3 separate regions of the Homo sapiens genome follow, and regions 2 and 3 are each linked to region 1. Evidence: fine-mapped expression QTL. A gene starts in region 1. Each other region holds a variant in brackets. All regions are shown on one strand. Distances are between the middles of the regions. Region 1 holds the start of RGS9 (regulator of G protein signaling 9). Region 2 overlaps LOC100507002 (a long non-coding RNA gene). Region 3 has its middle 22 kb from the start of RGS9.

What was found. PIP is the estimated chance that this variant, and not a neighbour inherited with it, causes the effect. A credible set is the group of variants that fine-mapping cannot tell apart.
Region 2: its variant is the best candidate, but not a certain one, in a credible set for the expression of RGS9 in thyroid (GTEx, PIP 0.55).
Region 3: its variant is the best candidate, but not a certain one, in a credible set for the expression of RGS9 in subcutaneous fat (FUSION, PIP 0.74).

The regions. Positions count from the first base shown.
Region 1 is chr17:65,135,786-65,138,549 of GRCh38, reverse strand. RGS9 (regulator of G protein signaling 9) reads right to left here and starts at 1,180. Exons shown (of 19, transcript NM_003835.4): 1 at 953-1,180. The coding sequence starts at 1,009. RefSeq lists a silencer at 991-1,490.
Region 2 is chr17:65,105,765-65,108,528 of GRCh38, reverse strand. All of the region lies in intron 2 of LOC100507002 (a long non-coding RNA gene), which reads right to left. Among named protein-coding and RNA genes, the nearest start is that of RGS9, 30 kb to the left of the region's middle. The variant A/C (reference allele first, on the strand shown) is at 1,455.
Region 3 is chr17:65,114,159-65,116,922 of GRCh38, reverse strand. No RefSeq gene overlaps it. Among named protein-coding and RNA genes, the nearest start is that of RGS9, 22 kb to the left of the region's middle. The variant T/C (reference allele first, on the strand shown) is at 1,589.

The DNA.
Region 1 (2,764 bases):
GACCAAATGCGACCGTCTCGGGGTCCCCAGGACTGTCCAGGTTTTAGCATTGAAAGTCCTGGGCAAATCAGGACAGCGGTCACTGACTATACAAATTTGCTGAGCTCCAGGGGCTCAGGGAGAGCTCAGCTTGTCACAAAACATTCAACTAATTCTACTCAACAAGATAAGCCTAAGAAGATGGACACTACGCTGTGAAAAGTGGCTACGGGTGGGAGGAAGGACAAAGATGTGACCCGGGACCTAATCCTCTGTAGATCTCATCGGACAGTGATTATACCAGAAGCTCAGAACTAAATGAACCACTTTGTCCCCAAACACATCACCCCACAGGTGCATTCCACCTCCCACATGTCCATCCTGTGTGCACACCCTGTGCCCGGTCACTTTGTCTGGGAAAGCATTCGCAAGGGAAGCGAAAAGGTTGGGACTTCTGCCGCCAGCGCAGACAGCAGGAGATGCACAGATAGACACACTCAAATGAGGGCTCTCAGGGCATTGTAAATGGGGTGGCCCTTTATCCTACAAATCACCCCGTTTTCATGGTCTATGTGTACACACACACACACTTTAAAATAGTGCAGTTTGGGATCAGAAAAAAAAGGCAAAAATGGCAATGTCACATCTGGTCGTCTTACAACAATATCAGCAGGCTGTCTCAAATCTGCCACAGCCTGAACTGAACCTGCCTCTCCCGAGTAACAGGTTGTTTTCACCTCCCGCAGACCATCAGCGCTGGCTTCAGATTCTCCACTACAGGCAGGGCACACGAAAACCTAATTATTATAGCCATCAATATCGACACACACAGCAAAGAAGTCACTTAATAAAATCGAGCAGCACAAATCGACCCAAAGGGGTGCTCTCCACTCCTGCCCCTCTTGTCCTCGGACGCTTCGCAGATGCGGTCCCCCGCCCTCCTCCCAGGGTCCAGGTGAGGGGCCAGGGTTACCTTTTGGAGAAATGCCATCCTCGGCCTGTACTGCTGGCCTTGGTGTCGGATTGTCATCCTGGCCCCTGGATGGATTCACAGCCAGAGCACCAGTGGGAGACAAGAGGAGAAGCCCCCCAAGTTCGAAAGGCAGCCTGGCTCGCCCCAGCCCTGGGCGTCGACGGGGAGGCGGCTGGGCGGGGAGGGCGCGGGCCGGGCCCCCCTGACTCTCACTAGGCGCCGCTGACTTGGAAAGCAGCTGGAATCCGCGCCAGCCAATCCGCGAGCGGCGCCGCGGGCTCATTAGCATGCGCTGCGCGGGCGCCCACCTGCCGCCAGGGGGCGCTATCCGGCCCCCGCCGGGACCCCGCGGAGCAGCAGGTGAGACCCGCAGGGCAGGGCCCCGGGAGGAGAAGGAGGAGGAGGACCTGGCGGGAGGAGGAGGAGGACCTAGCGGGAGGAGGAGGAGGACCTGTCGAGAGCAGCGAGCCTTTTAACTTGGGGCGGAGTTATGCACAGAAGTGACACAAAGAGCCCTCACTAATACAGCGCGGTGGAAAATACGGACTTTCCCATCCCAGCTCTGCCACTAACCAGCCGGCAGCCTTGGGCAAGTTCCTTACAATCTCTAAGAATCAATGTCCTTCACTCAAAAGTAAAAATTGAAAAATGGGATCATAATATCGACCAGAAAAGGTTGCTATACCATTTTAATGAGGAGATGTGTAACACAGTGCTTGGCCCTCAATAAATGCTTAGAAAAAAAAATTAGAGGTGGCGATTTAATGACCCAATAGCAGAGGAATTGCTAAGATGTGGGTTTAAAAAGAGAGAGCAAAGAAGTGAAGAAGGAAGAGAGGAAGGTTGTAGTCCTCACCGGGCTAGCTGTCTGGATGAAGCGAATTATATTTTACTTCTCTGATTCTTAGTGTTTCGGTTAGTTGGTTGTTGGGTTTGTTGTTGTTTAACTTTTTTTTTGAGACAGGGTCTTGCTCTGTCACCCAGGCTGGAGTGCAGTGGCGTAATCATGGCTCATTGCAGCTACAACCTCCCAGGCTCAAACAATCCTCCCACCTCAGCCTCCCCAGTAGCTGGGGCTACAGGCACGTGCCACCACACCCCGCTAATTTTTACAAAAATTGTTTGTGGAGAGGGAGTTTCACAAACTCCTGGGCTCAATCGATCTACCCACCTCGGCCTCCCAAAGTGCTGGAATTACAGGAGTGAGCCACTGCAGCTGGCTGGTTTGCTTGTTTTAATAGACTTTATTTCTTAGAGCAGTTTTAGGTTCACAGCACAATTGAGCGGAAGGTATAGGGACACGTCATATATCCCCTCTCCCCACGCACGCACAGCGTCCCCCATGATCAACATCCTCCACTGGAGTGGCCCATTTGTTACAATTGATGAACCTACCTTGACAGCTCATTATGTTAGCGTTTTCATCTTGAGAAAAATGCAAGGATGAAGCCTCTAAGTTATTATCAAGAGCCTTTCTGCTTTGTTATATAAAGCACTTTCTCTTAAACATACTCGATGGTTATTGAGTGTAGCAGATAAAATGTTTAAGTTGGAAGAAAACAAGAAGGCCTTTACCTTAGGAAGGCACAGTCAACCAATGTCCCTTTAAAGCAGTGGTTCTTGGCTGGGTGTGATGGCTCACGCCTATAATTCCAGCACTTTGGGAGGCCCAAGCGGGTGAATCACTTGAAGTCAGGAGTTCAAGACCAGCCTGGCCAACATGGCAAAACCCTATCTCTATTAAAAATACAGAAATCAATCAGCATGGTGGAGCAACCTGTAATCCCAGCTACTCAGGAGGCTGAGGCACAA
Region 2 (2,764 bases), 30 kb after region 1:
CGTGCTGGGATTACAGGCGTGAGCCACCGTGTCTGGCTGCCATTAATCATAATTCTATGCACCATTGTATGAGCCCTCAGTTCACAAAGTCCTTTTAACATATATGCACGTAGCCGTCCTCAGAATGAGACCACTGGTTTTTCTAGCCTCAGTGAAGCTGAAAAATAGATGATGTCAGCTGTGTGACACTGGACCAGTTAACTGACCTCTCTGAACCTTAGTATTTTCATCCACTAAGGAAAAAAACATCTAATATCTGCCCTATCTATTTAAAAGGGTGCTTGTGATCAAATGAAAATAATGAATATGAAACAGTTATATAATCCCTAAGGCAATATAGGAACAGTGACAATAGGGTGGGAGTGGTAGTGATAGATGTTATCATTGTCACAATATGCCTTCTAGGGACCAGACAGTAAAGACACATAAGAAAAACTCAGTTAGACAACCTAATGCAAAGAGTGAGATTTAATTGAATACTTTTTATGAATCCAGTGGCATGACTGCTACAAATAAACAACATAATCTTTGTCCTCTGGGAGCTGAGGTGGTAAAGTATATAGAGAGAGATGACCAATACACAGCACAGAATAAAAATGTGTCTCATGTGAAGCATACAGATCCTAATTGCACAGGAGCTGAAAAGGGACTGTGATCACAGGATGCTTCTATAGGTTTGAGTGTGTCCCTCAGAAGTCCATGTGTTGGAAACTTAGTTGCTAATGTAACAGTATTGAGAGGTGGGGCCTTTTAAAAGGGAATTAGGTAATAAGGGTAGAGCCCCATAAGTGGATTAATGCTGTTTGTGAGTGAGATCATTTCCAAGGGACTGAGTTAGTGCCCTGAGGTGTCTTTTGCGTGCACTCACTTGCCCTTCCCCATTTCTGCTGTGTTATAATGCAGTATGAAATCCCTTACCAGGGGCCAGGCATGGTGGTTCACGCCTGTAATCCCAGCACTTTGGAAGGCTGAGGCGGGCAGATCACGAGGTCAGGAGATTGAGACCATCCTGGCTAACACAGTGAATCCCCGTCTCTACTAAAAATACAAAAAATTAGCCAGGCATGGTGGCAGGTGCCTGTAGTCCCAGCTACTAGGGAGGCTGAGGCAGGAGAATGGCGTGAACCCAGGAGGCGGAGCTTGCAGTGAGCTGAAATCAGGCCACTGCACTCCAGCCTGGGTGACAGAGCGAGACTCTGTCTCAAAAAAAAAAAAAAAAAAATCCCTTACCAGAAGCTGTCACCATGCCCTTGGTCTTCCCAGCTTCCATAACCGTGAGCCAAATAAGCTTCTTTTCTTTATAAATTAGCCCATGTCAAGCATTCTGTTATAGCAACAGAAAATGGACTAAGACAGATGGTCAATGAATGCTTCCTAGAGGAAGTGAACTTGGGAAGGAACCCATGATATGGCTAGGTAGACAGGAAGGAGGTGTAGACTAACCTGGATATATC[A/C]GAAGAGAGCTGAATCAGAAAAATCCTAATTGCCCCCTCCCTCTCAGGCAGCCTGCTCCTGAAGCTAGGAGGCTCCAATCTTCCCAAGGAGGGAAAGAGTATGGAACAATGTCTTATGCCAACACTAAGGAAAGGGATTTCCTATTTCAATCTCTGTTGCTAAACAAGCATTTGCAGCTGAACCACAATCTCAAGAAATGGGCCAAGATCAGGTGCACAGGGAAGGCTCTGAGGATAGCCTCACCACTCAGCATTCCGGGCACAGCGCCAGTCACTCAGACAGCGTGCAAAACACGGCTGGGGCTCCTTGTGCAAGACTGACTGCAAGCTTTATCTGCATGGACACTTTCTTGGCTCACAGAATTGTTTTGGAACAAAAGCTATTCATTTCAGCTTGATTTGGAGCCACAATCCTTGGCTTTCTGCAGTGTCAGGACTTGGCAGTGTTTCTGGCCACTGGGTCAGCCATGAGGCCAACAGCAGAGAGGGGAGCAAAGACACAACCCCACACTGTACTGGGGGATGCTGAGAGGTGGTCCTGCTCTTCCTGGGATGGCCAGGGGACTGAGGAGCCATGGCTACTGGAGTGATTCTTTTCAGCAGCAGCCAACAGCCCCGTCCTCCCCAGCACACACACACACACACACACACACACACACACACACACACACACACTGTTATGCAGTTTCTGATGACAGGGCTTAAAGCATCCTCGTCCTTTCAGTCATAACTTTTCAGATTATAAATACGGTACTTCATCGGGTAAAATAACCATCTCCTTAGTAGTGAGGCAGAGGGAGCTAACGGTGGATGGCGGAGTTGTACCTACTTTGCCAGTTAGACATTTAAACTTCTCTGATAAAAATGACAGTCACTCCATTTCTTTCCCTTTGTGTTTAAAAAAAAAAATCAATCTCTGAGGAATTTGCAACTACCCCTCAAAGGAGATTAACAGGAGTTATTTCTAAAAGCACAATCAAGAGGGGCTTTCCAGCGATGACGTCTCTGCACAAAGGAGGGATTTTCTGGGAAGAGGGGAGTCTGTGTCTTGAACATTTTTAGGGGTCTTCCCATTAGGGGACAGAATAATTTTCCTCCAACCTTTTCCCCTGTAAACTCACTTAAGGGATTCCTTTTTAAATTGTAATAAATCTCAATTACGAAAAATATGACTGACTCCTTGGGTCCGGAATGGTCTTGGAGAGGTGGTCTTGGTGGGCAAGGTGGCAGGTGACAGGTGCCTGTACTCCACTCACGACGGGAGAAAACCCACCTTGATTTTCAAGCTCCCCAGGAAGGGTGCAGCTGTG
Region 3 (2,764 bases), 22 kb after region 1:
ACACTGCGAATAAAGACATACCTAAGACTGGGTAATTTATAAAGGAAAGAGGTTTAATTGTCTCACAGTTCAACATGGCTCGTGAGGTCTCAGGAAACTTATAATCATGGTAGAAATTGAAGCAAACACGTCCTTCTTCACGTGGCAGCAGGAAGGAGAAGTGTCGAGCAAAAGGAGTAAAGTCCCTTATAAAACCATCAGATCTCGTGAGAACTCACCCATTATCATGAGAACAGCATGAGGGTAACCACCCCCATGACTAAATTACCTCATACTGGCTCCCTCCCATGACACATGGGGATTATGGGAACTACAATTCAAGATGAGATTTGGCTGGGGACACAGCCAAACCATATCAGATAGTAATGATATTTTCTTCACAGAATTATTTTGAGGATTCATGAGATGCTCTATAGAAGTTTCTGGCAGAGCACCTGACAGTAGGTGCTTAAGGAATGGTGACTGCTAAAAAAATTTGTTAACTTCGTTTTGTCCATAATTCAGTTTATTATTATTATAATTTAATAAGACAGGGTCTTGCTGTTACCCAGGCTGTCACGAACTCCTGGGCTCAAATGATCCTCCTGCCAGCTTCCCCAGTAATGACTGCTAAAATTGTAGTATTCAGTCTTTCCTCCCATACAGTTCAAGCTCTTGTTGTTGAACCAGTCATCAATGTCTCAAGCCTTTCCAGTCGTAATCTCCACAGAAGGCTAAAGCACAGCTAACAAATGGTGCAGTCAAAGGGAGGCTCTGCCCCCATGACCAGGCCATGTCTCAGAGCAGCCACAAATGACAGCAGGTCTCCAGATCAGCAACATGCAGAAAGAGAAGCTGATGGGGGTTGTGGGGAAAGGCTTCCGTCCCTCAGGGCAAAGGAAGCCAGAAGGTTGACAAAAGGACCCTGTCTCGGTTGGCCTGAAGCAGAGGTGAATTGAATTGAGGAGGACACCTTGACAAGGAGAAAAAAAAATCAAGTCACAGATGGGGCAGTCTGGGAGGGCTGACAAAGACAGCCCCATAGTGTGAAGTCACACACATTTCCTCAGGAAACCATCTGTTTGAACAGTAAGTAATGTGTTCCTAAAATACAAAATTTTGCTTCTTTAAACAGAATTTAATGTTTTAAAATATATGTACCACATTCTGCTTGTGAAAATGTATTGATCTGTACATGTTTTCTGAGTGAATACCATATTTCAATTAAAATGTATATATATATATATTTTGGTATATATATTTTAATATATATATATGCCAGGAGTGCCTATAATCCCAGCATTTTGGGATGCCAAAGTGGGAGGATTGCTTGCACCCAGGAGTTTGAGACCAGCCTGGGCAACATAGTGAGATCTCACCTCTACAAAAATTTAAAAATTAGCCAGGCATAATGGCGCATGCCTGTAGTTCTAGCTACTCAGGTGGCTGAGGCGGGAAGACTGCTTGAGCCCAGGAGGCTGAGGCTGCAATGAGCCATGATTGTGCTAGCACACCAGTCCAGCCTTGGTGACAGAGCAAGACCCTGTCTCTCAAAAAAGAAGAAAAATACCAGAATGGATGAATATATAGGTAATTATTAATGAATATT[T/C]ATTGCCAACCCAATAGGTATAATGTCTTATGGAATTTAAATATATGTGTAGAACTAAACATGTATAACAACAACACAAAATGAGGAAGGAGATAAATAAAACTAAAGTTTCCTAAAGTTTTAAATGTTTTGGGAACTGGTAAAAGTAATAATTTGTATTACACAGAAATAAGTCAAGATTGCATGTTGTTTAATCTCTAGGATAACAGCTAAAGAAAAAGAATATGTAACAAAACAATGTATAACTAACAAGCTTGAGGTAAAGAATAGAATGATAGAAAATATTTTCTTAATCCAAAAGAATGCAAGAAAGAAGAAAAACAACAGAAAACAGATGGGTCAAGCAGAAAACAAATAGAATAAACCCAACTTTATATCAATAATTACTTTACTATTATTTAAATAGACTAAATAATCCAAATAAAAAACTAAGATTGGCCAGGTGCAGTGGTTCATGCCTACAATCCCAGCACTTTGGGAAGCCAAGGTGGGCAGATCACAAAGTCAGGACATCAAGACCATCCTGGCCAACATGGTGAAACCTCATCTCTACTAAAAATACAAAAATTAGCTGGGCGTGGTGGCATGTGCCTGTAATCCCAGCTACTCTGGAGGCTGAGGCAAGAGAATCACTTGAACCAGGGAGTCAGATGTTGCAGTGAGCCAAGATCGCGCCACTGCACTCCAGCCTGGGGTGACAGAGCGAGACTCCGTCAAAAAAAAAAAAAAAAGAAAAAGACTAAGATTATCATACTGGATGAAAAATACAAAACCTAACTCTATGTGACTTCTAAAAGAGACACTTTAAATACATGGAGATCGATGATTAAAGAAAAAGGATGAGGAAAGATAGACTGTAAAAGTCTAACAAAAGAAACCAGGCATTCTATAGCAGTATGAAGTAAGATTTTGAAGCAAAAAGCATTACTAGATATTAAAAGGTACATATTATAATGGGTCAATCCAACAAGTAGATATCAAATCACAAATCTATACATACTTATAACTTCAGAATACAGAAAGCAAAAATTAAGCAACTCAAAGAAGAAAGTGACAAATCCACAATCATTATGGAAGACTGTAAGATACATTTCTCGGTAACTTATAGAGCAAGAAAATATAGTAAGGATCTAGAAGATTTAAATAACGCAACTAACAGACTTGACTTAGTTGTTG